Linked DNA regions of Homo sapiens: region 1 is linked to region 2. Evidence: fine-mapped expression QTL. A gene starts in region 2. The other region holds a variant in brackets. All regions are shown on one strand. Distances are between the middles of the regions. Region 1 holds the start of SAXO4 (stabilizer of axonemal microtubules 4). Region 2 holds the start of CPSF7 (cleavage and polyadenylation specific factor 7).

Region 1 (15,740 bases), 49 kb after region 2:
TCAGGCAATCCGCCTGCCTCAGCCTCCCAAAGTGCTGGGATTATAGGTGCCAGCCACCAAGCCCAGCCCAGAGAGATTATGTGTAACTCTCTCTACTACTAGTTCCATGGGGGATAAGGACCATACATACATTACGTTCCATTCTGTTCTGTGTTTTAGCACAGTGCCTGGCACATAGTTGGTGCTCATTAAATGTTCATTGAATGACTAATTGACTGATGAAATAAATGAAGGTAGAGACTCTTTATGAAGCTGCCTGTGCTGGATCCAAGACCATTGATATCTGTTGCAAATGGAAGTTGTTAATGAGACTCAACAAGTTAGTGGAAAATGTTTTGAGTGTTTTATGAGATTCTCTTTTTTTTTTTTTTTTTTTTGAGACAGGGTCTCACTCTGTTGCCCAGGCTGGAGTGCAGTGGCGAGATCTTGGTTCACTGTAGCCTCAACCTTCCAGGCTCAGGCGATTCTCCCACCTCAGCCTCCCAAGTAGCTGGAACCACAGGCATGTGCCACCACGCCCAGCTAATTTTTTGTTCACCATGTTGCCCAGGCTGGTCTCAAACATGGACTCAAGCAATCCACCCACTTCGGTCTTCTGAAGTGCTGGGATTACAGGCGTGAGCCACTGTACCTGGCCTTTTTTTTTTTTAATTGGTTAATTTATTTATTGAGGCGGAGTCTCACTCTGTCGCCCAGGCTGGAGTGCAGTGGCACGATCTCGGCTTACTGCAACCTCTGCCCCCCGGGTTCAAGCGATTGTCCTGCCTCAACCTCCCGAGTAGCTGGGATTACAGGCGCCTGCCACCGTGCCTGGCTAATTTTTGTATTTTTAGTAGAGACGGGGTTTCACCATGTTGGCCAGGATGGTCTTGAACTCCTGACCTTGTGATCCACCTGCCTTGGCCTCCCAAAGTGCTGGGATTACAGGCATGAGCCACTGTGCCCGGGCTTTTTTTTTTTGTTTTTTTAATTAACTTTTTTAAATTTTAAATTTGAGACAGGGTCTTGCTATGTTGGCCAGGGTGGTCTCAAACTCCTGGCCTCAAGCAATTCTCCCACCTCAGCCTCCCAAATTGCCGGGATTATAGGCCTGAGCCACTGCACCCAGCCACAGGATTCTCTTAAAACCACAAACTTACCATACTTTCTAGATGTTTCCTTTCCCTCCTATGCATGATATAGTTAGCCACTATCTAATTGAAAGGTGTACTAGTCACGTTAGGCTAGACTATGATAATAAATAAACCCCCAAATCTCAGCGACTTAACAACGCAACCCTTATTTCTCATTTGTGCCAAGTCCAATGTGAACTGGGCAGCTGTTCAGGACAGCTCCTTTCTGTGGCAGCCCAGGGATCCACGCTCTGCCATCTCAACATGTGGTCTCCACGGTTGCTACTAAAGGGAATGAGAAAGTGCGGATAACTCACATTCACTTGCAACCTGGAAGCAACACGTGACACTTCTCCGAGCCCTTGGGCCGGAGCTAGTCACATGTTCCTGTGGAACTGCAAGGAGCCTGGGAGGTGTGGTTCTCCCTGGTACCCAGGAAGGAGAAGAGAACCAGATCTGGCTGAGCCTGAAGTCTCTACCACAGTCTGTTCTGCTGGTCTCCATGTACCGCATTGGATTTGCTCTTCTTCCTACACACAACACACAACATGAAACTGCTTTCCAAGAGAGAAAACCCAGAGTGATGTGCAGCTCCTGCCTCCAGCCAGGATCTCATGGGCTGCCCTAGGGTCTCTTTATGAGGTCTAGAGGTGGCCTTTTTTGGTCCAGAGATGTAGGAATTTTAAAAAGTTACCTGTTGGGGGCCGGGTGCGGTGGCTCACGCCTGTGATCCCAGCACTTTAGGAAGCCAAGGGGGTGGATCACCTAAGGTCAGGAGTTCGAGACCAGCCTGGCCAACACAGTGAAACCCTGTCTCTACTAAATATACAAAAAAAAAAATTAGCCAGGTGTGGTGGCACGTGCCTGTAATCCCAGCTACTCAGGAGGCTGAGGCAGGAGAATCGCTTGAACGCAGGAAGCAGATGTTGCAGTGAGCCAAAATTGTGCCACTGCACTCCAGCCTGGGCGACAGAGCGAGACTCCGTCTCAAAAAAAAAATAAATAAAAAATAAAAATAAATTTTAAAAGTTACCTGCTGGGCACAGTGGCTCACACCTGTAATCCTAGCACTTTGGGAGGCCGAGGCAGGTGGATCACTTGAGGACAGGAGTTTGAGACCAGCCTGGCCAACATGGAGAAACCCCATCTCTACTAAAAAATACAAAATTTAGCCAGGTGTGCTGGCGCATACCTGTAATCCCAGCTACTCGCGAGGCTGAGGCACAAGAATCATTTTAGCCTGGGAGGCAGAGGTTGCAGTGAGCTGAGATCATGCCACTGCACTCCAGTCTGGGTGACAGAGCAAGACTCTATCTCAAAAAAAAAAAAAAAAAGGCAGGTTACCTGCTTCTCCCTTCCCACCCCCACGCCATACACAAAGGTGGAGTAGGGGCAGGGACAGGATAACCACAGTAAGGATACCCCGGGAAGTGGGAGCTGAGGCCTTCTGGGCAGACCTTGTGGAGGGGTAGGGAAGTTTCTGGAAGGAACTACCTTCATCGCTGCTCTCAGGGCCGCTTGGCTCCCTCATTTAAAGCTCTTTTTCCCCTACCTTACTTTACTCGATCATATCTGAAGTAGGGATTGTGTGTTCCACCCTCCTTGAGGGTTGTGTGGATTTCTCAGCCCACTTCCTGCCCATGGAAGTTTTAAGTTTCAAATAGTCACAATCTTTTTAAAGACCAGGCCCATGGCCAGGGGCGGTGGCTCATGCCTGTAGTTCCAGCGACTTGAGGCTGAGGCGGGAGAATCTCTTGAGTCCAGGAGGTTGAGGTCACAGTGAGCTATGATTGCGCCACTGCACTCCAGCCTGGGTGACAGAGCAAGACCCTTTCTCTAAAAAAAAAAAAAAAAAAACAAAAACCAAACAAAAAAAGCCCCATTTTTTTTGGGCATTACTGTTTTCTCAAAATTTCAGTAGGCCTCTCATCTGTCTGCTTCCAGTGAGTTTCATATGCCTGAATGTGACAGTTAATTTGTGTCTCAATTTGTCTAGGTGACTGGGTACCTGGATATGTGATCGAGTATTCTTCTGGGTGTTTCTATGAGGATGTTTTTGGATGAAATTGGCATTTAAATTGGTAAACTGAGTAAAGCAGTCTGTCCCCCTAACCGGGGTGGGCTTCATGTAATCAGCTCAAGGTTTGAATACAACAAAAAGACTTACACTCTCGCAAGTGAAAGGCAATTCTTTCTGCCTGGTAGCCTTCAAACTGAGACACAGGCTTTTATCCTGCCTTCAGATTCGCCTGGGAACACTGGCTCTTCCTGAGTCTCAAGCCTGCTGGCCTTGAGACAAGAACTACATCAGCTCTCTCAGTTCTCAAGCCTTTGGACTTACTCTGGAACTAAGCCATCAGCTCTCTTGGGTCGTCAGCTTGCCAACCAACTCATCCTGAAGATCTTGGGACTTGCCAGCCTTCATAGTCACGTGGGCCAATTCCTTTTTTTTTTTTTTTTTTTGAGATGGGGTCTTACTCTGTTGCCCAGGCTGGACTGCAATGGCACGATTATGGCTCACTGCAGCCTCAACCTCCAGGGCTTGAGTGATCCTCCCACCTCAGCCTCCCAAGTAGCTGGGACTACAGGCACATGCTACCATGCCCAGCTAATTAAAAAAAATTTTTTTTTTGTAGAGACGGAGTTTCACTGTGTTGCTCAGGCTGGTCTTGAACTCCTGAGCTCAAGCAACCCTCCACTTCAGCTTCCCAAAGTGCTGGGATTACAGGCATCACTGGCCCAGGCAGAGCCAATTCTGTATAATAAATCTGTCTCTCTCTGTCTCTCGTGTATGTGTGTGTGTGCACATTCTGTTTTGCTAGAGAATGCTGACTAATACAGAATCACATCCTAATTTATTTCCTAAGAAGTTCTCAAATCTTCATTTCTTTGCTTATGCCGCAGTAACAAACAAAACCCCAAACCTTAGAGGCTTAAAGCAGCAAGGTTTATCTCTCTATCACATCCCAGTGTGCTGCAGGAAAAGCAGCTCCAGGGCAGCTGACTCCATGCAGTGACTCAGAGATCCAGCCTGCTTCCATCTTTTGGTTCTTCCATCCCAAGTGTGATTTCTACCCACAGAGAATGGAAAACTCACACCCACCTCTAACTACTCAGACTGGGAGTGGCACTGCTCAATTCCACCCACAGAACCAGCCATGTGGCCCTTATCTAACTGCAAGGAAGGCAGGAAAATGCAATGATAATCATAAACATTTCTTGAGTGCTTTCTCTATGCCAGGCTGTGTGCTAAGCATGTAAATATTGTCTTTTCTGTATTCCAAGCCTAAGTCTCTTAAAGTTCTACTGTGACCTCATCATACAGCCAAGGAAACAGGCTCGGAGAAGTTAAGGAAGTTGTCCAAGGGCACATACCTCATAAAGGCAGGGCTGCAGAATTGAACCCAGATCTCTGTGCATTGGAAACCCACCCCCTTGACCCCTGTCCTGGTTCCTTGCTCATCTCTGCCAAGAATATCTTCATTCCATCTGAGGATTGGGAATGGCTTCTTATTTTCTGCCTCATCTCATTTCATCTTCCCCGCGAGTCATGAATTTTTAAACCTTGTGTGAGATCAACAAGTTCACCCAGAGGAGACAGTAAAAGAACAGAACAGGCAGGAACAGAACAGCCATCAGATACACAGGATAGAGTCTTCCAGGAAATGCCCACTGAGGGGAGAAATGAACCACAAGTGAGGCCAGGATTGTGGGAGGCTGTGAGGGAAAGCAATCCGGTCATCAGGGGAATCATTTCCTTTTACGAAAGAGAGAGAGATGGGACTTAGCCATTAGACTTGGGCTATTTCAGTTCCTGGTAATGACACAGCTCAGTGAATAGAACCCCCAAAGCACTTTCGGAAGGGGGGCCCCAGTCCTGGGCAGCTCTCCTGCCTTAATCACTGCAAGTCACAGAGCAGAGAAACTGGAAATGGGCAAAATCGATGACAGGCCTGCCTGCAGACCACGCCCTGGACCCAACCTGCGCCCCCACGGTCATTATGTCACCCATCACTCCTTGGTGCTCACACAGCTGAGCCCATGAAGCAGGGCAGCCCCCACTCCCAGGACTAGACAGAAAGGTGGTTGCACGAATCCAGGGCTCCATGCTCTTCCCCATCGCAGGGAAGACAGGGCCTCACAGACTTGATGTCCTCCCAGTCAGCTCTTCTCTGCCATGATCCCCTTTATGCTGCGTCCCAGCTTCAAACTGCTCCCCTGAAAGGGTCAGTTGGAGCAGCTGAGCTTGGGGCATCTCACCTGGGTGAGCTTTGTTGGTGGGCTCAGAAGAATCTGGGTTGGGAAACAGTACTCTGGGGGCAGAATGAGGGGTTCAGTGAGCCCTTGTGTCCTTTGTGGGCACCTTGGAGTCTGGCTTGGGAGAAACTCCCTGTGCAGGTCCAGCAGGCCTAGAGGCCAGGCTGAGTGTGGGTTGGCATGAGGCCGACTCCCCTCCATGCCCCGCTGTAATAAGGCAGAGGGGAAGGACCTTGGAAGGGGGTAGGCTGGGGTCCTGCTATGTCACAGATGGCAGGTGAGGGGCCCAGGGGGAGGGGACGTGGAACCAGCCATCACTTCAGTATATGAAGACAGAGCTCCAAGTTCTCCAGGCCAAACAACACATCTCAAACTAAAGCAAGCCAAACCTCCTATCCTGGCTCAACCCCCTCTTCACAGGCAACAGGATCAGAGGGAGGCAGTTAATTAAGAAGGGTCACATAGCACTATTTGTGCCAGAGCCAGACCTCAAACTCAAGCCTAGAAAAGGCTCAGAAAGGGGCAGGCATGTAACCTCAGATCACCTGAAGCCAAGAAACATTACTCTAGGCTTGTCCCAGCCTCCAGCATGGGAATTTCAAAAGTAGGAGTATAATTACCCTCTCCCTGCCACCCCCAGCCTCCTGGGCTGGGAGGGCTCAGTGCCTTTAGCTGCATCCCAGGGATCTGTTTCCCATTTCTCAATCATCTTAGCTGATTCGAACAATTTCAGACCTTTCTTCTGTGAATTTTTCACCCAGCAGTGCCCAGCACAAACTGAGGACCATGAGAGGGGTGAACTCTTTAAAAGGATTTTTAGGCCTAGCATGGTGGTTCACACCTGTATTCCCAGCACTTTGGGAGGCCGAGGCAGGAGGATCCCTTGAAGCCAGGAGTTTGAGACCAGCCTGGGCAACAAAGCAAGATCCTGTCTCTATAAACATTTTCTTAAAATCTTTTTATTTTTTTTTCTCTATAGAGGTAATCAGGTTTAAAAAGAGATTTAAAAAGTCATAGGAGGTCAGATTTTGAAAATAGATCTGAGAACCTCTAGCTCAACCTTTGAGGCAATATCAAAGTGGTCACCAGCATGACCTTTGAAGTCAGGATGTCTGGGTTCAAATAATGGCTTTTCCCCTTAGTAGCTGTGTGACCTGTGACAAGTTACGCAGCCTCTCTGTGTCTGAGTTTCTTCATCTATAAAATGGAGGAGCTGATACCACCCACCAGGTAGGAATGCGGTGAAGTTTAATTGTGCTAATCATGGGAAGTGCTTAGAAACAGTCCCTGATACCTAACGAACCAGTGAAAGTTTGCTCTTATTGTCATCCTGTCAAGCTGTTGCATGCCTCCTGGGATGGGGAACTCACTCCCCCCAGGGCAGCCTGTTCCCCTATTGGATTATTTTGTGTGTTAGGAGGCTTTTCTATCCATTAAGCTGAAGTATGCCAACCTGTCTCTTCCCTACAAGAGCCCTGGCTTCCCTCTGAGGGCGGCTATAAAGACCCACATCAACCAAAGCAAAATGACACACACTTGGTGGTGTGTGGCTCATTCACTTCAGTTAATCCTCTTTTAGGGAACTGCAGCCCACATGGCCCAGCACAGAGCGCAGATGTCTGTCTCTGCTCAGGACTCAGCACTCAGTGGTGGTGTGCTCTGGCCTCGGGAGCCTGTTAGGGCCTACCCCACTGATCCCAGCCAAGGAACTCTATGGGCTGAGACCCAGCATGTCCTCTCACTGGGTCCTCTCTGCTAACCTAGTGTGTCTGTAGCCTCTGCCTTCGTATGGGAGGGAAACAGGGGAATCTTTTTTTTTTTTTTCTGAGATGGAGTCTTGCTCTGTCGCCCAGGCTGGAGTGCAGTGGTGTAATCTCGGCTCACTGCAACCTCTTACTCCTGCATTCAAGGAGTTCTCCCTGCCTCAGCCTCCCGAGTAGCTGGGATTACAGGCGCCCACCACCATGCCTTGCTAATTTTTGTATTTTTAGTAGAGACGGGGTTTTGCCATGTTGGCCAGGCTGATCTCGAACTCCTGACTTCAGGTGATCTGCCTGCTTTGGCCTCCCAAAGTGCTGGGATTACAGGCATGAGCCACTGTGCCCGGCTGGAAACGGGAATCTTACTGCCCAGGACTGGGCAGAGCTAGAAAGTAGGAGGCAGTTGCCCATCTGGCCAGGGCAGCCCATCCCTTTGGAAAATCATCCCTTTGGAAAAGCCCAGTGCTAAGGTCCCGGCGCTTTCTGGAGAATTTGCTGGTGTGTTCCAGAGGGCGGGGCATAGATTCCAGGGTCAAAGCTGAGTTTGGATCCCAGCTCCACTCCTCCCTGTCTGCGAGGCCTCAGGCAGTTTCCTCACATGTAACATGGGCAGGATTATAGTAGTTCCCACGTAGAGCCGGGAGTGAAAAGCGATGATGAGGTGATTCGTAGCTCAGCTCTGGCACAATAAAGTGCTGAATAAATGGGGACAGATATGGGAAGGGAGTGGGATGAGGTGGGCCTAGATTTTCCAGTATGGAAGGACTTTTAGTCTGTTCCTTCATTTTGTAGATAGAAGGACTGAGGTCCACAGGTGACAGGTCCAAAAGTCACGCTGCTCTTGGGTCACCTGGCACCTGGGCTCCCGCTCCTTGTGGGCTCCAGCGCTTGCCCTCCCGGAACACTCCTTGCCCAGACGCAACCCTCCTGTTCTGGAGGGATGGGTGAGTGAGGCTTGGGGTGGGGCTGTGGCCAGGTCGACGGAGCTGCTCTGTCCCCAACTCCTAGGACCCCCCGACCCCGGTCTTAGGGATTCATCTGCGGCATCTCCTGCAGTTCCGAGTTATGGCCGCTGGGTGTCGCCACACAGCAAAAAACCCACGGGCCGCCGGGAGGACGGGACCTAATGGGGGCTCTGATGGGACAGCGCCGGCCAGACCCTGATCCCCGACCCTTGAACTCCTGCCCAGGTCCTTGGTCGGCTACAGCCTAGAGCCTCCCTAAGAGAAGCCCTAAGGGATGATTTCAAACCTTTCTACCACCCCTCCTTGCCCCCTCCACCTGCTAAAAGGAAAACCTGGCTACAGCCTACCTGGGGGCTGCTTCTCCCAGCTGAGCCTCTCCTCCCCACGCAGTGCTCCAGCCACGCTGCACTAGTCAGGGCTCCCAGCCTGCTGGACACCTGTCTCCGCCTTTGTGTTTGTCGGGCTTTCCACGTAGAGGGCCCTTCCTTATCTCTGCCTGGTGCAGGCCTGTTACCTCTTGTGCATAGGGTATTTCAAATCCACCAGCGACCCTGCTAGGTAGGCACAGTTATCCCTGCCTGCAGGTACAGAAACAGGCTCAAAGAGAGGAAGCCCCGAGTCACACACAGCAGAAGCAGGTTTTGAACTCGGGCTCCCACAGTGAGCTTTCTTTTGCTACATCTGAGATCCTTCCTAAACCGTGGGCTCTCTGAGGCCAGGGCCATGTGGATTTCCTGTTTGTAACCCTTAGGCCCAACCCTTTGCCTAGCAGGCAGTGAGTACTCAAAAGGAACCTCTTTCCCTAGCTCTTAGATGGCACCTACCGTGTGCCAGGTACTGGGCTAAATGCTTCGTGCGTACCACAACCCTGCAGGTAGTTACCATTATTATACTCATTCTCCAGAAGGGGAAACTGAGGCACAAGGAACATGCACTGTCTTACGGTTATCTAGTGGCAGAGACAGGACCCACACCATCTGGCTTCAGAGTCCAAGCTCTTGCTCGTAGCCACTTATCCAGGCACACTTAGAGGAGGGCCCCTCTCTCCCTTCACCCTGTGAGCACCTCACCTATGGTGGTCTCACCCTTTGTGCTTCGTGTGTGGAACTCCCACGAGCCTCTGTAGTAGAATGGGAGCACTTTGCTGGAGGGCAGGGCTGTGTGCACTCACTCCTGTGTCCTTGTGCCCTGTGATCCCTGAACAGAATCGTTAGTCCGGAGGGTGGGTGCCAAACGTGCTTCAGCTTGCCTTCCCATGGGGGGCTGGGTGAGGACACGAGTGAGCCTCCACCCTGGCAGGCCAGGTCACTACAGGATGAATGCGGCAAGGGCATCTCCTGGGTGAGGAAAGGAGATGCCTCCTTTCCCTTTATTCAGCCTTCATTCATACCTCACTCTCCCCTGAGAGCAGGGGTGCTCTGAAGCCAGCTCTACCGGCTCAGGAGAGCTGAAGGCGAAACTTCCAGGAAATTGGCAAGCTGGTTTTTAACTCTGCCATTGTTAAAAATTAAATTACTGGCCGAGCGCGGTGGCTGACGCCTGTAATCCCAGCACTTTGGGAGGCTGAGGCAGGCAGATCACTTGAGCTCAGGAGGTCGAGACCAACCTGGCCAACATAGTGAAACCCCATCTCTACTAAAAATACAAAAATTAGCTGGGCGTGGTGGCGTGCACCTGTAATCCCAGCTACTCAGGAGGCTGAGGCAGGAGAATTGCTTGAACCAGGAGATGGAGGTTGCAGTGAGCTGAGATCGTGCCACTGCACTCCAGCCTGGGGGACAGAGCAAGACTCCATCTCAAATAAATAAATAAATAAATAAATAAATAAATAAATAAATAAATAACTTAAACCTGCAATTTAATGAATTATATTAAAAACAAAAAAAAATACCTAAAACTCATCACCCCTTAATTATGTGAGTACATTTTTCTATTATTTGTGCTGTCGAGGTTACTTACGCCCATTATGTCTGCATGATGGGACTACTCCCGTACAGTGGTGAGCGACCTTCCCATGTCCCGGTTCAAAGACACTGTAGTGGTGGTTTGAAAGCAGCCCTGATGGGACCACTGACATCACAGAAATTGGCAAATGCTGCAAAGTAGGGCTATCCCACCCCACCCAGAGATCTAACTGTTACAACATTTACAAGCCTGAAAGCCAATTTGAGGCAAAAAGGCTGTCATGGAAGAAGATTCTCACTGTGGAGTTTGCGCACTCAGATTTGAGTCCAGGCTCCGTCTCCACCCACTGTGGGGCCTGGGCTATTTCCCCTTGAGCCTCGCCTTTCCTATCTGCAAAATAAGACTAAAAGTACAGCAGCTTTTGCAAATTGAGCATTTGCCGAGTGTGGTGGCTTGCCCCTGCAATCCCAGCAACTCAGGAGGCTGAGGCAGGAGGATCACTTGAGGCCAGGAGTTCAAGACCAGCCTGAGCAACATAGCAAGACGCTGTCTCTACAACAAATAAATACATAAATAAGCAAGTCAGGCAGGGGGGAGCACACCTGTAGTTCTGGCTACTTGAGAGTCTGAGGCAAGAGGATTGCTTGAACTTAGGAGTTGGAGGCTGGACTGAGCTATGATGGTACCTCTGTACTCCAACCCAGGTGAGAGCATAAGATCCTGTCTCTCTTAAAAAAAAAAAAGAGCATTTACTACCTGTCAGGTGCTGAATCCATGCTCTTGCTAAATCTGCCAGCAGCCCTGTGAGGTGGGTGCAGTCACGTCCCTTGCGAAGATGGGGATTTGGGGGCGTGAAGAGGATAAGTACCTCATCAAAGGTGACAGATCAGATTTGAACCACACTCTTAACTGCTGCGGTTTATTGGCCCTACAATAATAGTGCCCAGTTCACAGGGTGGTTTGGGGGATTACACGACGTAATGTGTGTTAAAGGGCTTAGCACAGATTCAGCTCCAGAGGAACATAGTAAATGTTGATTTACCGAGAGGCAGAAGAGCGGGATCCACATCCACCCACGTTTGAATCTCAACTTGGCTATTTTCTGATTGCGAGATCTCTGGAGTCAAGTCATTTTGCTTATCTAAGCCTCATGTTCCCCCAGTGAAAATGGGGATAATCATAGCTACTGAAGAGCTGCTCAGAGGATGGAGATAGAGGATGTAAAGTATCTGCCGAGAAGTGGGTACTTTATGGGAGTGAGTGTTCGGGATTATCTTTTATTTTATGTCACGCAGACAGCAACTCTTCCCAGCCCTGTGGAGGAGGCCGGAGGTTGGGGCCGGAGCCCTGGAAGCAGGGCCTTGCTCGGGCAGCTTCTGACCCTCCCCTCCTGGCCAGGTCAGCCCCTCAGTGGGCCCTGGCCCTAGAAGGTCTCAGAAGCCTGGGGACGCTGTTGCTAGGCACCAGTTGCTAGGCTACACATTGTTTCTCCTGCTTGGCCTCCTCCAGGAGGGCTGGCTTCTCTGCAGAGCTCTGCTTCCTGCAGCCTCTCCCCGACCTCAGAGCCTCTGCAGAGGAAAGGTGAGGGTGGGGCCGCTGTGGTTGGGCCTCGGGGAGAGTGCAGCCAATTCCCAGGGGAGGCAGGCAAGGCCAGAGGCGGGCAAGGCC[A/G]TGGAGATGAGGGAGAGAGAGGAGCCGGGGGCTGGGAGTGAGCGCCTCGGCCTGACTTCTTGGGTGGGGGCCAAGAATTCCCCAGGTAGTGGGTTGTCGGCTCATTCATTCCGAGAGGTGGGTATGTAAGGTTCAGGTCAGGGGCCGAGTAGTCAAACACCTAGGTCTGAATCCCAGCACTACCACCTATTATGGAGCAAATCCTTTATCACTTGGAACCTCACTGTCCCAGTGGTAAATGGGGACAGGAAGAGTTAATAAGAAGGTGTGGGAAAGTGAGAGGAGACATGAGGACTCTTGGGATAAGTGTGGATGATCGGTTTCGTCCTTAGTTTAGGGACTTGGGAGCTGGGGCAGAGAGACAGAGGCCTGGGAGAAGGGGCCAGCTGCGTTGTGGGTGGTGGGGGGCAGATCTTCGCCCCTGTGGGCTTCCGAGCCAGGCTTGGGACCCATGAGGCTCCCCGTGCTTCCTTTCTAGGCCCCCTGGGGCCCTGCCCCACAGCATCATGATGGGGAAACTCCCCCTGGGGGTCGTCTCCCCTTATGTGAAGATGAGTTCGGGGGGCTACACGGACCCCCTGAAATTCTACGCCACCAGCTACTGCACCGCCTACGGTGAGGGTGCCTTTGCGCAGGAGCCTCTGCTAGGACATGGGCAGGAAGGGAGGGGCTCTCTCTGAGGGAGGAGCAGACCCTCTGGCTGTCACACTGCAGAGCAACTGCTGAATCCGTTTGTCCCCTGGGCCCTGCCCGGCTGCTCCCTTCTCTGGTTCTGTCCCTGCAATTCTGTCACTGTGATTCTGCCACACTGACCTTGTCCCCAGCCCACCCACTCCATTTCCTGCCATCACAGTCCTGAAAGGGCAGGCTTGCAAAGCTCCTGCCCGTGGCTCTGAGCCCTCCCCTGTCACTGTGACCCCTGTGCCCCTCGGAGGACGCTGGCCCTGCCTGGGAAGCCCTGCCTGTTTTTGACCTTGGGGTCTGTCTCCCCGTTACCCCTCTGGCAGGTCGGGAGGATTTCAAGCCCCGTGTGGGCAGTCACGTAGGCACCGGCTACAAATCAAATTTCCAGCCCGTGGTCTCATGCCAAGCCAGTCTGGAGGCCTTAGACAACCCGGCCAGGGGGTACGGTCTGTATGGCCCCTTCCCAGCCCCTGCCCTGCTCATCAGACCAACTCCAGGTTCCTTGGATGGGGACCCTGAGCTTTGCCTGCCCTAGGCTGGGGGTCCTGGGTGACTCAGGGCACAGCGGACCTCTGAGCCATCTGTGGGAGGGTGCAGGGAGGAGGGAAGCTCCTTAGCAGAGGACAGAGGCAGGCGGCCTGGGGTTCTAGCTCCTCCTCACCCTCAGGGAACAAGCCCAGGACCATTTCCAGTCTGTGGCCAGCCAGAGCTACCGCCCCCTGGAGGTGCCTGACGGCAAGCATCCCCTGCCCTGGAGCATGCGCCAGACCAGCTCAGGCTATGGGCGGGAGAAGCCCAGTGCGGGTCCCCCCACCAAGGAGGTCAGTGCTGGGCCAGGGCCAGGAGAGGGAAGCCTCAGGGTGGGGTGGGGCTAGGGCTGCACTGCCAACAGTTGGTCAAGGTGGAGGTGACAGGGCATGGAGCAGCCACCTTGTAGGGATGGGGTCCACTCATCTTTCTCCCCTTTGTCCTCATCCTTGTCCCCACCATCCCCACCACCTCTATTCCCTGCCCCAGCCCCACCATTACCTCCACCTCCATTTCCATCCCCATCCCTGTCCCCATTCCCATGAGCCTCACACTCCCGTCCACACCTGCAAGCCCCATCACTGTCCCTACTACCACCACTGTCCCCCCACCATGGACATCCTCACCCCATCTTTTTCATTTCTTTTTCTTTTTTTTTTTTTTTTTTTTGAGATGGAGTCTCACTCTGTTGCCCAGGCTGGAGTGCAGTGGCACGATCTCGGCTCACTGCAACCTCCACCTCCTGGGTTCAAGCGATTCTCCTGCCTCAGCCTCCCCAGTAGCTGGGATTACAGGCATGTGCCACCACACCCGGCTAATATTTTGTATTTTTAGTACAGACAGGGTTTCACCGTGTTAGCCAGGATAGTCTCAATCTCCTGACCTCGTGATCTGCCCGCCTCAGCCTCCCAAAGTGCTGGGATTACAGGCGTGAGCCACTGCGCCCAGCCCCATCTTTTTCATTTCTATCCTCATTATTACCACCCTTCTTATCATCAGCACCACCACCAAAATGGACACTCATTCATTCATCCAGCGAGAATGTTCTGAATATCTCCTTCATATTTGAAGATGATAAGAGCGGGTGGAGTGCGGGGTGGGGCGGGGGTTAGGAAATACAACAGGGAGAAGCAGGGAGGAAGAGAAGTGAAGGAGTTGGAGGCCAGGTGCGATGGCTCACACCTGTAATCCCAGCACTTTGGGAAGCTGAAGCAGGCAGATCACTTGAGGTCAGGAGTTTGAGACCAGTCTGGCCAACATGGTGAAACTCCATCTCTACTAAAAATACAAAAACTAGCTGGGCATGGTGGCACGCACCTATAATCCCAGCTACTCAGAAGGCTGAGGCAGGAGAATTGCTTGAACTCGGGAGGCGGAGGTTGCAGTGAGGCTGAGATTGCCTGGGCAATAGAATGAGACTTGGACTAAAAAAAAATAAAGCCAGGCGTGGTGGCTCACACCTGTAATCCCAGCACTTTGGGAGGCTGAGTCAGGTGGATCACTTGAGGCCAACTGCTGTTGGGTCAGCCTGGCCATCATGGTGAAACCCCATCTCTACCAAAAAAATACAAAAAAAAAATAGCCAGGTGTGGTGGCTTGCATCTGTAGTCCCAGCTACTTGGGAGGCTGAGGCACAAGAATTGATTGAACTCAGGAGGTGGAGTTTGCAGGAAGCTGAGATCATGCCACTGCACTCCAGCCTGGGCAACAGAGCGAGACTCTGTCTCAAAAAATGTAAGTAATAAATAAATTAGAAGCGAAGGAGTTGCAACTGCAAATCGGGAGGGTCGGGAAAGAGCTTGCTATGGAGACACTGGACAAAAACTTGAGGGAGGCCAGCTCCTCCAGTTGCAGCTGTCTGAGGGAGGAGTGGTCCAGGCAGTGCCAACAGCAAGTGCAAAGGCCTCAAGGTGGGAACAGAAAGGAGACAAGCAGCTAGAGCAGGGTGAGGCACTCAGGTCCTTGCAGGCCACCAGGAGGACGTGGAATTCCCTGCGAGTGTGATGGGAAGGCTGCAGGGCTCTAAGCAGAGAGGGGACATGCAGGTTTCATTGTAAAAGGACCCCCTCTGGCTGCTCTGCAGATACTGCGCTCTGTAAAGGTCAAGGGCAGAAGCAGAGTCAGGGAGTGACTGCCGCCCCCTCACTTGTAATTGGCCCTTCTTCCTCCCAGGTCCGGAAGGTCCATTTCGACACCCAGGAGCACGGGCCTCAGGCCATCACGGGGCTGGAGCCCAGGGAAGTGCCTCTGCTCCACCAGCAGCAGGGCCAGGACCCGCTGGAGCGGGAGAACTTCCGACATGTGAGTGGCAGCCCAGCTAAGGGCTTCGGGGTGGGGCAGAGGGGCCACACCCGCCTCTTCCTCCCACCTCAAGACAAGTATTGCACTGACTCACCCAAGAAGCCAGCTCAGGGTGGGCTCAGGGCGCCAAGAAAGATGGGAGAGCAAAGGATTTGATATTGGCTATTTCCAAAATAGCCTCAATGTGGCTTCTCGCGATTTAACGCTACTCCTCTTCCCCCAGCCTTCCTCCTCCTGCTCACGGCCCCTCCTGGTCTCGGTCCCTCTGGGCCCCCCACTCATTACCAGGAGTCTGGTGTGGGGTGTGACGTGGTATTCATAGTCACAGGGGAACTGTGCTTTGTGCTGAAATTCCTGGCCCTGCGATGTCCCACCCCACAGAGACTTGTGTCCAGGGTGCTGTACTGGCCCACACAGGCTTCCTCAGAGCACAGAGAACCGAGGCGCCACTCCACCGCCGCCACACGCCTTCGGGGCCCTGGTGGGTCAGTGCCCCCACTCCTCCAACCTCTCTGTTCCAGGGCCCACGCTTCATGACGTCGGAGTACAATTCCAAGTAT
Region 2 (16,265 bases):
TCTACTACACTGCAGCTAGGTCCCTTTCTAAGGCAGTTTGCCAAAACCAAGGCAGTAAGCTGGGCCAGGGGTGGGAGTGATTAAAATCCAGGGCCAAAATATAGTACAGATCTTTTATCCCAATGGTTACAAATTAAAAGGGGCTTCTCAAATCCAGACCTCACCCTTTGGACTGGCCATTTGCTCGATTCTCTGCAAATTTCAACTCCACCACATCATAGACTCCTATAGAGCGAATAACCTGGATCAGCTGCTGGTCTGTGGTCCACTGGGGCCGGCAAGATGGAAAAGGAAGAGATGTCAAGAGCTACACCCCCGCCCGCCAATGTCCCAAACCCAGGATTCTAGTCACAACTAAGTCCCCCCAGAGGAAACTCAAAAGCCTGGCAATATTTCAATTAGTGCAGACTTTTCTTATTGTCCTCACCCATACAGAATTCCAAACCCACTCACCCCCAATCTCCATCTTTAGAGATTACGAAGATTAAAACTTATTGTAACTTTGACTGCCGTTTGGGCTGGCTGGTCATCAGTTCAAACATTGACAGCTAGCAATTTTTTAATTATAGATCTGTCAGGCTAGAGTTGACCATTGCCAGAACTTCCCCCACAGTAAATATACTTCCTAATTTGGAAAAACCACCCCCACCACCAGCCCCAAAACATCACAAAATAACTTGCAGAACAACAGTCACCACCTACCCCAAGTATACTAGAGTTATCAAGGTCTTTAATCCCCATCACCCACCATTATCACAGGACCATCTAATGACCACCAAGAGTTCAAGGTGTTCACTCTGAAATCTCGTCCCTCAGATGACCCTGCTAGACATAAAGCCCCAGGGTCAGGGGCAGTAACAAGATGGCAGAAAAAGCAACTACCCACTTAATCATTGCTTTCTTCGGCACCAGTACGTCCTCAGGATAGTTCTCTTTCAGAGATCAATCCAACCTGATCCCAGGAAAAAGAAATCCAACCCCATCAGAGCACAAAACAGTGCAACAGTAGTTTCTGAAAATGCCATCACCTCCCAGTGCTCTCCCTCCAGCCCACCCCTAAGCATTTTTGGTTACCCACACTCACCCAGGAGAAGCTGCCCACATAAACGGCAGCTCGTCTATTACGCAGGCCACTGTAGGTATACAGAATTGCAGGGGTCTTGTTGTTGGGCTTGGGAGATGGCTCCTGGCGAACAGGAGGAGGTGGTTCAGTGCTGCTGCTTCTGTCATCTGAGGGCTGTGAGGTGGCTGTCAGCACATCATCATACAGGTCAATCTGATCTGTATTGTTGAACTCTGGGTCCTAAGAGATGAGGGGTTGGCAAAGGTAGGTCTGCAAACTTCATTTTGTTCATTCTATTTCACTCTAGTTTATTAGAATCCAGTTAAATACTTGGTAAAACATGTACAAAACTTCCTTGTCCTACCCCAGGAAACAAAGTAAGAAAAACCTCCTTTTGAAACTGTATCACTTAATTATGCTTATGTACATTTTTTTCCCCTCAAGATTCTGTTAATAGTCTGTAAAGTTTCTGGCTTTAGCCAACGGCAAGAATCAAAAAGCACTGGGTGATTAAGCAAGCAAAGAAAGAATGCATAATGAGATGCATGGGCTGCTGTTATCAATAAGGTCAGCTTCTAAAGACCACATCTAAGATAAGCTAATGAAAACTTATTTTCAGTATCTTATGCTATTTCCAAAATCAAGTGTTACATAAAATTCACTTGTCTATTTAATAATAAATTTATTTAGAAACAGAATGCAGAGGAAAAGCATGAAAGTGGGTACAAAAATGCAGAAAAGATTGGGAGTTACTGATTTAAATCCCTTGATTGGTATAAATGATTTAGGAAAGCTCTAAACTCATTGTACACAATCCCATCTTTCCATCGGAGAAAATAAAAAATAAATAAAAGGGAAGGGAATAACAACAGGGGTTTTCCCCTACTAAGTTCTATTTCTTAAATGACATACAGGCCCAATGCATTACCATGACATGTATCTAGGAGACTTTTTTTTTTTTTTGAGACAGGGTCTCACTTTGTCACCCAGGCTGGAGGGCAGTGGTGCAATTACAACTCACTGCAGCTTCAACCTCCTGGGCTCATGTGATCCTCCCACTTCAGTCTCCCAAGTAACTGGGGACTACAGACATGCGCAACCATGCCCAGCTAATTTTCAAATTTTTTTTGTAGAGACAGGGTTTCACCATGTTGCCCAGGCTAGTCTGGAACTCCTGGACTCAAGTGATCCACTGGCCTCGGCCTCCCAAAGTGCCGGGATTACAGGGGTGACTACCATGCCCAGCCAATATTCAATGATATACAAAAAACAGTTAAAGTTCTCTAAAATATAAGGGCCAGAAAACAGGACAAGAACATAAACTGTATCACACAGTAAGCATTTACAATATGAATATGTATTATGGAAAATGTGCAAAATACATATTCTGCCTATGTGATATCTTACTTACTATATACCAAAACCCCTAAAACTACAACTACTACTACTACGATACAGGACCTTAATGTTTAGGATTTTACAGGCTGGGTGCAGTGGCTCACGCCTTGTATCCCAGCACTTTAGGACGCAGAGATAGGCAAACTGCTTGAGCCCAAGAGTTTCAGACCAGCCTGGGCAACATGGTGAAACCCTATCTCTACAATAAATACAAAAATTAGTTGGGCATGGTGGCACACATCTATAGTCCCAGCTACTCGAGAGGCAGAAGGATCACTCGAGCCCGGGAGGTTGAGGTTGCAGTGAGCCAGCCTGGGCAACAGAGTGAGACCCCATATCAAAAAAAAAAAAAAAAAAAAAAAAAGGGTTCAGGATTCTACAATGTAATTACCTCAGAGAAATCTTTTTTTTTTTTTTTTTTTTTGAGACACAGTCTTGCTCCATTGCCCAGGCTGGAGTGCAGTGGCGCCATCTCAGCTCACTGCAACCTCTGCCTCTTGGGTTCAAGTGATTCTCCTGCCTCAGCCTCCTGAGTAGCTGGGATTACAGGCACACACCACCATGCCCAGCTAATTTTTGTATTTTTAGTAGAGATGGGGTTTCACCATGTTGGTCAGGCTGGTCTCAAACCCTTCATCTCGTGATCTGCCCACCTCGGCCTCCCAAAGTGCTAGGATTACAGGCGTGAGCCACCGTGCCTAGCCTCAGAGAAATCTTTTTAAGGATTAGACAAGCATTTTATTTTTATTACAAGAATTAGACAAAACATTCAAACAATGCTAAAGATAATGCTGCCAAAATGACAGAGACAGCAAGTAGTTCAGTGTTTTAAGGATGCTACGGCAGTTTCATATTGCTATTCTTTTAAAAAGGGAATAAAGGAGGCACCTAAGTTGGGAAACTTGTCTAGTACCCTGAAGAAACAGTTTCTCCAAGGCAACTAAAGACAGGCGGCTCCCTTAACTTTCTCCCTCCAATATCACGGCAATAACTGCTAATTCTGAAGTGATCTGAAGACGACTCACTAAAAAATTTACTCTTAGACCAGTCCTTGTATTATAAGAACCTTTGGAAACAATCTTTCAGTTTTTCAGTTTATCTGAAGTACAGTGGAAGAAAATGCACACTAAGAGAATAATCTTGGGTTGTTCTGATAGAGAAGGGGGAAGGATTCTACTTCCTAAAGCATATAAATAATTTCAAATATTAAAACACTCTAAGAAACCCACCAGGAGGGCTTAACCCTTGTAAAAACGTTAGAAAAAGAATATCAAGAGACAGTAAACTTTTAGGGGGCAACTTAACAACAAGAAATTAGTGAGGCAAATAAGCACAGGAAGCTTGTTCCATGTAGTCAAATCCATCAAAAAGGATTGTGCATAAAAAGGGTCAGCATGTAAAGAATGAGGAGAGAAGCTAACACTGGAGAGGACAGGGTGGATAATAAAGTAAGGTGAGGTCAGCTAGGGCTAATGAGTGGGAAAACATTTTGTGTGTAAGTAATCACTATAAAATATTTCATAGCTGTTACGTCTCAAACTATCCCAACTCTATAGACAAATCACTCTTCTATTCATGTACCAGGTATGGTGAGTTGCTCCTGTGGTTCAAGGTAGAGAAAGGATTTATATACATCACTTGATCCCATCCAATGCTCAAATCCTTAGAAAGCACTACTTCACACCAAGATTCTTCTTTTTTTCTGAGATAGAGTCTCACTTTGTCACCCAGGTTGAAGTGCAGTGGCGCAATCTTGGCTCACTGCAACCTCCGCCTCCTGGGTTCAAGTGATTCTCCTGCCTCAGCCTCCCGAGCAGCTGGAATTACAGGTGTGCACCACCACACCCAGCTAATTTTTGTATTTTTAGTAGAGATGGGGTTTCACCATGTTGGCCAGGCTGGTCTCTAACTCCGGACCTCAGGTGATCCTCCCACCTCAGCCTCTCAAAGTGCTGGGATTACAGGCGTAAGCCACTGCACCCAGCCTTCTTTTTTTTTAAATCAAGGATTTTCAAATGACACGTAAACAGAATAAGGAAACACATCATCTTGGATAATCGAATGGAACCAAACTGAGATTCCCTTCCATGCAGTATCTGTAATTCAGGTATATGTGTCTAAAATTTGTAATGTAAAAATGATCACTGAAAATTGAGTAGTGGACTAACATGCAGATTTGGACAGCTCAGAGACCAAATGCATCACCAGGAAACCCTTCGTACTATATGCTTAGGCAACCAATCCACTGTTTTAAGATCCCTTAAGAATAGGATAGACTAGATCCTGGAGAATCTTGGTATGGCTACCACTTTTAGAAACAAAAGGATTGAATGAATACAAAATTATCACAAGATTTAAATGGTCTCTCTGGGCCACAGAGCCTCAGTTCAAAGAAGCTGGTGGGAACTGCACAGGGCAGGTCTGTTGAGGGTTCTACTGAAGAAACAAGGTATCAAATTGTTTGGATTTTAATCCCCCAGCATCACAATTCATTTTACTTGTTCAGCTAGTAAGACAGAAACACAGTTAAGGGCCGGAGATTTTTCTCAGCGGATTTATGCAGTAATAGATTAAAGTAAAATCAAATTCTACAAATTAAGTGAAAAGTACATTTTACATGCACTGATGTTCAAAGTTTCATTCCAGGGAGATTAAACATGAAACATATATTTAATACTGAATAACTATCTCAAAGAATTTTGTGTTTAATGGCACAGAAAGAACTGTGACTGTCTCATGAAACTTCCTGCTTCCCTGTAAACAAAAGAGAACATGTGTGATTTTCAATTTAAATAAGATCTTCTCCACTTGTCTGCTCAGTGTTCCTAACCTCCACCCTCTTCTTCCTCATATCCCACTGAGGGAAGTAACTAGCCTAGGATTTATTTTTCTCAGAGCAACCAACTTGATACCATTGTTTCTTTTAATTGTAACCAAGGCTTAATCAAAAATTTTGGCTTTATAATGACCATTTCCACAGTTCCCACTTCACACCCTCCTTGTCCTTCACTGTACATTGTCGTTGTCCACCACCCCTACCCACCAGGAGTGGAATCTGTTTTGAGTACAGGGACCCACTTTTTTTTCCTTTTACCTCACTAGTCCTGGCACAGTGCTTAGCAAACACAAGTAGCTCAATAAATAAATACTTATTGATGGACATAAGGAAGAGAACTGGACACTGTGCAAAGCCTGTCTCAGTATGAAAAGCCAAAACTCCCAGCAGAGCAACTGATCTCAGTCACCTTTCCAGAGTTCTCCCTGGCCCAAGAGAGCCAATGTGAATCCCAGGACTCCCTGTGTTACAGGAATAAAGTAGCTCTGGCAAAAACAGGCTTTTGCAGCAAATGCTCTAAGAGATCAGGGAATAAGCACCATAGGGTTCCATCTAGGAAAAATATTAATTTTCCTTGAGGAGCAAAGTGCACATGAAGGGCTTCCTGTGCATGGGCCAGCTTGGGGCGAAATCAGTAACATTCTTAAAACATTCTAAAACACAATTTGTACTGGGTGCCTTCAGACTAAGCCAGCTTCTAACAATTCTAGCCAAAGTTTTTTTGTTTTTTTGTTTTTTAAATAATTTCTGTAGCTTCCAGATGACACTAACACTAACTTTGTCAAAAATAACTAATTGATATGTGTGTGGGGGGGAAGCACTCATCCCTCACCTTCCACAAAACATAAGATATTCAAAATTCACACTTTCTTCAGCTTGCCTAGTGTCAAATATTGCCCGTTGGATATATGTATCTATTAAAGTCCACATACTACCTTTAGCCTGTCTTAGACCCATAAAAAAGTCCTTTTTAACTGAGGAGACCAGAGAACAAACTATTGAGGCCAATAACTTATACTCTAACAAAGCAGTGACCACTGGACAATGAGTTCTGCGTATTTCTCAAAGTGAAATGAATGGCACTATTATCAATCCACAGATAAGAAATTAGAAGGGGAAAAGCTTTTCATTAATAACAAAGGTGGCTGGGTACGGCGGCTCACGCCTGTAATCCCAGCACTTTGGGAGGCCGAGGTGGGCAGATCACAAGGTCAAGAGATTGAGACCATCCTGGCCAACATGGTGAAACCCCGTCTCTACTAAAAATACAAAAATTAGCTGGGCATGGCGGTGCGCGCGCCTGTAGTCCCATCTACTCAGGAGGCTGAGGCAGGAGAATCATTTGAACCTGGGAAAAGGAGGTTGCAGCGAGCCAAGATGGTGCCACTGCTCTCCAGCCTGGCGACAAAGAGAGACTCTGTCTCAAAAAAAAAAAAAAAAAAAAAAAAAAGAGAAGAACTAAGGACCGCTCTTGTTATCTTGGTGGGGGAAAAACATAATCTGCAAAAAGTCTGAACTGGGCAGAGTGGCTCACACCTATAATCCCAACAGTTTGGGAGGCTGAAGTGGGAGAATCGCTTGAGCTCAGGAGTTGAGAGACCAGCCTAGGCAACACAGCAAGACTGTGTGTTTTTTTTTTTAAGGTATTAAAAGTCTGATTCAAATGAATATGGAAAACTCAGGAAAACAATGATTTTGTAACTAAATTAACATCTAGAACTTTTCTCTTTTATCCATAATTATTGGACTTATTTAAAACTAAAAAATTTTTTCGCCATGCACGGTGGCTCACGCCTGTAATCCCAACTTTGGGAGGCTAAGGCGGGCGGATCACAAGGTCAGGCATTCGAGACCAACCTGGCCAACATGGTGAAACCCCGTCTCTACTAAAATTACAAAAATTAGCCAGGTGAGGTGACCCACGCCTGTAGTCCCAGCTACTCAGGAGGCTGAGGCAGGAGAATCACTTTAACCTGGGAGGCAGAGGTTGCAGTGAGCCGAGATCGCGCCACTGCACTCCAGCCTGGGTGACAGAGAGAGACTCTGTCTCAAGAAAAAAAAAAAAAAAAAAGGAAAATTCATCTATTTAAGATAATCAGCAGCTATATTTAAAGGACCACAGTTAACCACAACAGAGACAAGAAACCTGCCATTAAAAAGTATAATTGGTGAAGCTGTATAATGGGTACAAGGTCATTACATTATTCTGCTTTTGTGTATGGTTTATAATTTCCATGTTATAAAACCATAATACATCAAAAAATAGATTTTCATGTAAACTTATGCCAAGTGAAAAATAAATGGCATGTATCCGCCTCTTCTGTTGCCTCATATCAAAGTCAGGGTCAAACCAGGGAACTTTCCCTTTCTAACCCATTCAATACATGCTCTTACCAGGTCCTTATGTGTACCCACTGGAAGATGCAAATGGGAAGAGCCAGCTTACTTACATAGAATGGTGCTGAAAATAACCCAGGCAAGATATTAGTACGTTTTCAATAGAAATTTTGGAACATTCTTGAGAATTGACCTCAAGACTGAAAAACTTAACTGCATGGAAGATTATTTCTTTGAGAGAATTTTTCTTGTGTTTTTAAGAGTCAGGGTCTTGTTCTGTTGCCCAGGATAGAGTGCAGCGGCCCAATCATGGCTCACTGCAGCCTTGAATTCCTGGGCTCAGGGAGTACCTCTTGCCTCACTCTCCAGAGTAGATGGGACTACAGGCACAAGCCACCATATCTCGTTGTTGTTTTTTTTTACATTTTTGTAGACTGGGTCTTGGTATGTTGCCCTGGCTGGTATTGAACTTCTGGTCTTAAGTAATCTTCCCATCTCAGGCTCCAGAGCAGCTGAGATTACAGTCAAGAGCCACCTTGCCCAGCTCTAGATAAATTTCTGTATAATGTTCCCTGGTACAATAAAAACAAATCCAACTGAGGGTATGTGCATGGGTCTATTATCAGTTTTCTAACTGGTTTGTCTAACGTCTTTACTCTTTTATTCCCTCTAGAAAGACTAAAGGTAACCAATACAATTTATTATACCAAAATGCCTGTGGACTTCTCATGACTGGAGTCAACCTACTTATAAAAGGAAGTAAAACTTAATTGGAATGGAGTTGAAACTAAATGTTAAAGTCATCTTTTCTACTTTGCTTTTGCACTGTCACGATGGAGGGGACTACACTTCTCCAGCTGCAGGTTGAGAATGTAAAGGAACCGGTATCAACACTGTCCTCATGAATACCGTAGCAAATGTACTTTTGATTTTTAAGTGTGGTTAGTCTGACACCCACCTTTGGCTTCCTGGGGAGTAAATTCCACAGGTTGATTCACCATTCTATTACACCTGCTTTTTATTTGCTCTTAAATCAAAGCCTTTAAAATTAAGCCTGGAGCTTCAAATTAACATAAAGAGGAATGGAGTGTAGTCTTTAAAGTTTCTGCAGGAGAAAAATTTTAGACCGGATAGACGCGTGTTCAAGCCTAGGACTGGTACAGCTTGAAACCACTGCCAGTTTGCTGAAAATGATTCCTCAGATGATCAAGGAAAATCCCAAAGCTCCTGATGACACCTCACCTGGTTGAACTCCTCGTCAGCATATATATCAATCAAGTCCACTCCTTCTGACATGGCTCCGGAAGGAAGATCGCGAGTCCGGAGGATGGACAAAGTAAGGAAGATGCCACTGCGGGATTCGGAAAAATGCAAGAATTAGAAGGCACGAGGGTCCTGGGCTGGGAAGAGGGTAATGATTGCTAACCTCCCATCTCCAGAGACGCAGCATCCTGGCGGCCCCAGCTCGGCCCCACCCGCTCCGCCCCGCCCCCGGCCTCGCGCCGCCCACCGCTCTCCCAGGCCGCCGGGGGTCGCTGCCCATCACCCTCGGGCCCGACCCGGGTAGCGCCGCGTCTGCGCCGCAGCTGCCTATGGCGCGACGGAAAAGTCCCACCCTCGGGTCCTAGTGGCCCTAGGACGGCGTTGCGAAGAATGACCGCGGCGAAGCCCGCAGCCCCTATCCGCTGCACCTGCCTAGCCCCCAAGGCGGCTCCGGCCAGAGCCCCCAGGTGTCAAGCAGCTCCAGCCGCCTCTGCCCCCAACCCAGGCCTACTCTTCGCCCCCAGCTAGGCCCGCCCCGCTCCCTCCCGACAAACCCGGCCCGGCGCGCTCTGCCTCCTCCCTCAAAAGGCCCGCGACTCCCTCCGCCCGCAGACTCCGGCCGTCCCATCTCAACCGACCCCCTTCCCGCCTCAGTGCCGGCCCGGACCCCTCTTCCGGCCCAACCTGCCCCCGACCGCGCGCCCCCGTTACCGGGAATATGGCGGCGGCGGCGGCGAGTCCGGACTAGGCCCGAAGCGCGCGAACCGCTCTCCGCCCCAGGTCCCGCCCCCCCCGCCGCCGGCGTCACACGCACCGCCACTTCCGGCATGCGCAGGGACGCACCTTCCGGCTCAGCTCCTCCGTGGCTGCCGTGGTCGGCTGGCCGGGCGGCTAGGAGTTCCCGGAAGTGCCCGCGCAGCCGGTTTCCGGTGCAGGTGGGGAAAATGGCGGTGTCTACAGTGTTCTCGACTTCGTCGCTGGTGAGGAGAGAGAACGTTCTAGCGTCCGGGGCGGGCGGCAGCGGGGATTACCCTTTGTCTTCCTCTGTGGTCTCTATCTTGGGGAGAGTTCGTCTGCCCGATAGCGCAGGGCAAGGGCAGGCCCAGGGAGAGGCCGATCCTGCAACTCAGGAAATAAAGGTCGCTTCCATTCTTTGGTGAGCCTACTGTGTGCCGGTCTGGAAATATCTGCTTAAACGATCAGTCATCGTCCAAGACCCAATTCGCCTCTCACCTACGTCCCAGGCGGGATTAGCCCAACTTCCCTGGGCTCCCCTTCTCCCCGTTCTTTAGTCTTTAATGCTTTTCGTGGTTTCACATAGTATCTTCAGCTTTTTGTTTGTTTATAATTGACATATAATTGTACGTGTTTATGGGGGTACAGTATAATGTTTTAATACATGTGTACATCGAATAATCAAATCAGCGTAGTTAGCATGTCCATCACCTCAAATCTTTATCATTTATTTACGGTAATAACTTTTCAAGATCTTTTTCTAGCATCTTGACATATACAGTACAGTGTTATTAGCTGTAGTCACTCTAATATGTAATAGAACACTGGAACTTATTATTCTTTTTTCCTAGCCTGCTGTTATAAAGTAACTAACTTTGCCTCTATCTTCCCCTCCTACCCCCATCCCTATCTTTATTCTTTTTTTTTTTTCCTGCAGACCCAGGGACTCGATCTTTATTCTTTTTTGATGTAGGCGTTTACACTATAAACTTCCTTCTTAGTACAGCTTTTGTCGCATCTCATAATTTTGTATATGTTGGGTTTTAGTTTGTCTCAGGATATTTCCTTTTTGTTTGTTTTTTGTTGTTTTCCTTTTTTTTTTTTGAGACGGAGTTTTGCTCTTGTCGCCCAGGCTGGAGTGCAATGGCACGAACTTGGCTCACTGCAACCTCCACCTACCGGGTTCAAGCGATTCTTCCGCCTCAGCCTCCCAGGTAGCTGGGATTACAGGCATCGCCATCATGCCTGGCTAATTTTTGTATTTTTGTAGAGATGGGGTTTCACCTTGTTGGCCAGGCAGGTCTCGAACTCCAGACTTAAGGTGATCCGTCCTTCTCGGCCTCCCAAAGTGCTGAGATTACAGGCGTGAGCCACCGCGCCCGGCCTGTTGTTTCCCTTCTTTTTTCTTTTTTTCGTAGAGACAGGTTCTCACTATGTTGCCCAGGCTGGTCTCAAACTCCTGGCCTCAAGTGATCCTCCTGCCTCAGCTTTCCAAAAAGTGCTGGGATTACTGGTGTGATCCACCATTCCCGGCGTGTCTCAAGATATTTTCTAATTTTCCTTTTGATGTCTTCTTTGACTCATTGATTGTTCAAGAGTGTGTTGTTTAATTTCCACATATTTGTGAATTTTCCACCTTTTCTTTTGCCATTGATTTCCAGATTTTAATAAAATGTCTCTTGTGCGGCATATAGTTGAATCTTTTTTTTAATTCATTATATTCAGCCACTTCATGTCTTTTGGTTGGGGAGGTTATGTTATGTTATGTTATTTTCTTGAGACAGAGTCTCGCTCTGTCGCCCAGGTTGGAGTGCAGTGGCATGATCTCGACTCACTGCAAGCTCCACCTCCTGGGTTCACGCCAATCTCCTGGTTTAGGAGTAGCTGGGACTACAGGCGCCCCCCACCACGCCTGGCTAATTTTTTGTATTTTTAGTAGAGACGAGATTTCACCGTGTTAGCCAGGATGGTCTCGATCTCCTGACCTCGTGATCTGCCCGCCTCAGCCTCCCAAAGTGCTGGGATTACAGGCGTGAGCCACCGCGCCAGGCCTGGAGTTTAATCCATTTATACCTAAAGTAAATAGTGGCCGAGGTGGGTGGATCGTGTGAGTCCTGGAGTTCGAGACCAGCCTGGGCAACATGGCAAAACCCCTTTTCTACTAAAAAAAATTAGTCAGGTGTGGTAGTACACACCTGTAGTCCCAGCTACTTGAGAGGCTGAGGCGGGAGTGCGTCTGAGAAGTCAAGGCTGCGGTGAGCCTTGATTTTGCAACAGCACTCCAGCCTGGGCATTGGAAGTGAGACCTTGTCTCAAAAAATAAATAAAATAGGGAAGTACAATCATCCCTTTGTATCCATGGGATGACTGTTGTAGGATCCGCTGTGGATATCAAACTCTGCAGAAGCTCAGTCTCTTATATAAAATGGCATAGTATTTGCATATAATCTACACACATACTTCCATATCCTTTAAATTATTTCTAGATTACTTATAATACCGAAAACAATGTCAAGGCTATGTATATGCTTGTTATACTATATCTTAGTTGTTTTTTAATTGTTGTATTATTTATTTCTTTTGAATATTTTTGATCCACAGTTGGTTGAGTGTGCAGTTGGTTGAATTTACAGGTGTGGAACCCACAGATACGGAGGGCCAACTGTGCTTGCTGTTGCCGTTTTGTAAACTGTTCTCTGTCTTACAACCTTTTTGCTCCTCTTTTCCACTCTTGTCATCCTTTATATTTCGTTGACTTTTTTTTTTTTGTAGTGACATACTTTGAGAAACGAATTTCTCATTTCCTTGTGTGTCTTACACAGGTATTTCTTTGTGGTTACCATGTGGCTTATATAAAACATAACAATCTGTTTTGATAACTTAATTTCCATTGCATACAAAAACTCTGCTCTTTTATGACCCCCTTGTATGTTGTGGATGTCACAAATTACATCTTTTTATATTGTCTCCATTAACAAATTTTTATAGTTGTTTTTATACCTTTGTCTTTAATTTCTATACCAAAATTAAAAGTGACTTACATACCACAGTTACAGTATTATAGTATTCTGTACTTGTCTCTCTCTATATATTTTTTTAATTTAATTTTTTTTTTTTTTTGAGACGGAGTCTCGCTCTGTTGCCAGGCTGGAGTGCAGTGGCGCGATCTTGGCTCACTGCAACCTCCATCTCCTGGGTTCAAGCGATTATCCTGCCTCAGCCTCCCGGGTAGCTGAGACTACAGGCGCCCGCCACCATGCCTGGCTAATGTTTTGTATTTTTAGTAGAGATGGGGTTTCACTGTGTTAGCCAGGATGGTCTCCATCTCCTGACCTCGTGATCCGCGCACCTCAGCCTCCCAAAGTGTTGGGATTACAGGCGTGAGCCACCGCACCCGGCCTCCAGTGATAATTTAACACAACTCATACCAGTATCACACAATTCCCTGGAACTATGTGACAACCATTATTGTTTCTTTTATGGAATGCTGCCTTGATACTAACAGAAAAAAATGGGTGAAATTTGGCTAAAATAATAAGACATCCCAATTATTAGAACAATTTCCTTGTACTGATGAGGATAGTCCTCCCCATCCGCATTCATTTCTGTAGAAATTACTCAATCATGTTATTTTAGTATAGAAAGTAGGAATCCCTGCCTTCAGTCTGCATCAGAATCTCTTAGAGGGTTGTTAAAAATTCATTCGTCAGGGCCCAGTCCTAGAGATTCTCATCCAGAATGTTTATGGTGGGGCTTGGGAATCTGAATTTTCATCGCATGCTGTATTAGTTTACTAGGGCTGCTATAACCTGTGTGGTTTGAAGAACAGAAATTAATTTTCTCATAGTCCTGGAGGCTAGAAGTCCAAGAGCAAGGTGTTGGCAGGTTTGGTTTCTTTCGAGGCCTCACTCCTTGCCTTGCAGATGGCCACCTTTTCACTGTGTCCTCACATTTCTCTGTGCATGCACATCCTTGGTGTCTCTTTTGTGACTTTTTAAAGACATAGGATCTTGCTTTGTTGCTCAGGTTGTACTTTAACTCTTGGGTTCAAGCAATCCTCCCACCTCGGCCTCCCAGGTAGCTGGGACTATAGGGTCATGCCACTGCACCCAGCTTTTTCTGACTTTTGACAGTTTGATTAAAATACGTCGCAGTATGGACTTCTTTGGGTTCATGTTAATTGAGATCTGTTAGGCTTGAATCTGGATGTCCACTTCTTTCCCCAACTTTGGGGGTTTTTAGCCATTATGTCTTTTTTTTTGAGATGGAGTCTCACTCTATCACTGAGACGAGTGCGATGGCACAATCTCAGCTCACTGCAACCTCTGCCTCCTGGGTTCAAGCAATTCTCCTGCCTCAGACTCCCCAGTAGCTGGGATTACAGGCACGCGCCACCATGCTTGGCTACTTTTTGTACTTTTAGTAGAGACGGTTTCGCCATGTTGGCCAGGCTGGTCTTGAACTCCTTACCTCAGGTGATCCGTTCACCTCAGCCTCCCAAAGTGCTGGGATTACAGGCATTAGCCACTGAGACCAGCCAATTATGTCTTCTAATAAGCTTTCTGCCCCTGTCTTTCTCTTATACGACTCTCATAATGTGTATATTGATCTCCTTGATGGAGTCCCTAAGGCTTTCTTCACTCCTTCTCATTCCTTTTTTTTTTTTTTTTTTTAGAAAAAACCCTGACTAATTTCAAATGACCAGTCTTTGAGTTTGCTGACTCTTTCTGCTGCTTGATCAGGTCTACTATTGATTTTCTCTAGTGAATTTTTTAATTTATTTTAATTTTTTAATTTTTTTTTTTTTTTTGAGACGGAGTCTCGCTCTGTTGCCCAGGCTGGAGTGCAGTGGCACGATCTCAGCTCACTGCAAGCTCCGCCACCTGGGTTCACGCCATTCTTCTGCCTCAGGCCTCCCAGGTAGCTGGGACTACAGGCGCCCGCCACTATGCCCGGCTAATGTTTTGTATTTTTAGTAGAGACGGGGTTTCACCATTGTTAGCCAGGGTGGTCTTGATCTCCTGACCTCTTGATCCACTCGCCTTGGCCTCCCAAAGTGCTGGGATTACAGGCATGAGCCACCACGCCGGGCCTAATTTTTTAATTTTTATGTATTTTTATTTTTTAGAGACGGGGTCTCACTGTGTTGCCCAGGCTGGTTCTCGAACTCCTGAGCTCAAGCGATCCTCCAGCCTCAGCCTCCCAAAGTGCTAAGATTATAGACATGAGCCACCGTGCCTGGCCTCCTCTAGTGAATTTTTCAATTCAGTTACTGTATTCTTCAGCTCCAAAATTTTCATTTGGTTATTTTTTAATGTTTTCTGTCTTTTTTTTGGTTTTCTCATTTTGTTCAAGCTCAATGTTCAAGTTCTCAATGTTCCAAAGCTCATTGAACATCTTTATTATGGCTAGTTTGAATTCTTTATAGGTGATTCATATACTTCTGTTTCTTTAAGGTTAGTTTCTGGAGATGTATTTCGTTCCTTTAATAGGACCATGTTTTCCTCTTTATTCATGTGCTTGGTAACTTGTACTGGTGATTTCTACATTTGAAAAATCATCTGTCTCTCCTGGTCTTTGTACTGGTGATTGGCCTTCACTAGTCAGCATGGATAGAGATTCCAAGGGCCTCTCAATCCTTTACTGAGGATGTGTCTTTTCTGGACTTGCGGATGTAAATTCCCATTTAGAGGGATTTGCCGGTTTCCTTTTTCAGGAGCCCATAATCTCTTGCTCCCTCTAGTGTCTGCGTATGATACTGCAGTTTCTCTGGAGCTGCTACAAGTCTCCCAGCTGTCGGTGGCCTCCAGACTTTTAGAGTATGCCATGTCCCATCAGTGCCCCAAGCTGGGCAAGACAGAAACCAGTCCCTCTGGTAGCTTCCCCAAAGGACAGAATGTTACGACTGGGTGTGGTGGCTCACGCCTGTAATCCCAGCACTTTGGGAGGCCAAGGTAGGCAGATCACCTGAGGTCGGGAGTTCGAGACCAGCCTGACCAACATAGAGAAACCCTGTCTCTACTAAAAATACAAAATCAGACGGGCGTGGTGGGGCATGCCTGTAATCCCAGCTACTCGGGAGGCTGAAGCAGGAGAATTGCTTGATCCTGGGAGGCGGAGGTTGTGGTGAGCCGAGATCGCGCCATTGCACTCTAGCCTGGGCAACAAGAGCGAAACTCCGTCTCAAAAAAAAAAAAAGTCAGAATATTAGATGCACACTCCACTCCCCTCAACCCTGGGAGAGGCCACTGGGCTGTATTGGCCTTTCTCTGCAGTTTCAGGGATCCTCTGGATCAGCAGCAGGCCACCCAGGCATTTAGAGTGTGCTAGATCCTTTCAAGTGCTTAGAGACAGAAACCAGTCCCCCAGAGAGCCCCAAAAAGCTAGAATGTTGGATGCATACTGCACCTGTTTCCCTCCCTAGGGAGAAGCTGGGAGGTGGGAGTTTTCTCCTGCTTGTTCTGCACTGAGCCAAGGATGAGTGATGAGGGAGTGAGTGCTTGCCAGTCTAAACTGTCACCTTTGTTCTCCATGGTTCTTTGTTCTCCCTCAACCTGCTGCCCTTTTCTGTTAGCACTTAGATTCAAACAAAACAGAAACCTGATCCCCCCAAAAGTCCGAACATTATACATA

The links.
Region 1: its variant is fine-mapped to the expression of CPSF7 in whole blood (INTERVAL, PIP above 0.99).

The regions. Positions count from the first base shown.
Region 1 is chr11:61,469,637-61,485,376 of GRCh38, forward strand. It overlaps SAXO4 (stabilizer of axonemal microtubules 4), which reads left to right and starts at 11,484. Exons shown (of 14, transcript NM_145017.3): 1 at 11,484-11,580; 2 at 12,146-12,282; 3 at 12,675-12,792; 4 at 13,019-13,172; 5 at 15,052-15,180; 6 at 15,702-15,740. The coding sequence starts at 12,174. RefSeq lists an enhancer at 12,921-13,215. The variant A/G (reference allele first, on the strand shown) is at 11,668.
Region 2 is chr11:61,420,306-61,436,570 of GRCh38, forward strand. CPSF7 (cleavage and polyadenylation specific factor 7) reads right to left here and starts at 9,670. Exons shown (of 10, transcript NM_001142565.3): 1 at 9,609-9,670; 2 at 8,877-8,985; 3 at 1,085-1,303; 4 at 165-268. The coding sequence starts at 8,930. It overlaps SDHAF2 (succinate dehydrogenase complex assembly factor 2), which reads left to right and starts at 9,819. Exons shown (of 4, transcript NM_017841.4): 1 at 9,819-9,877. The coding sequence starts at 9,842. RefSeq lists enhancers at 8,885-9,533, 9,890-9,949 and silencers at 9,040-9,469, 9,580-9,749, 9,608-9,943.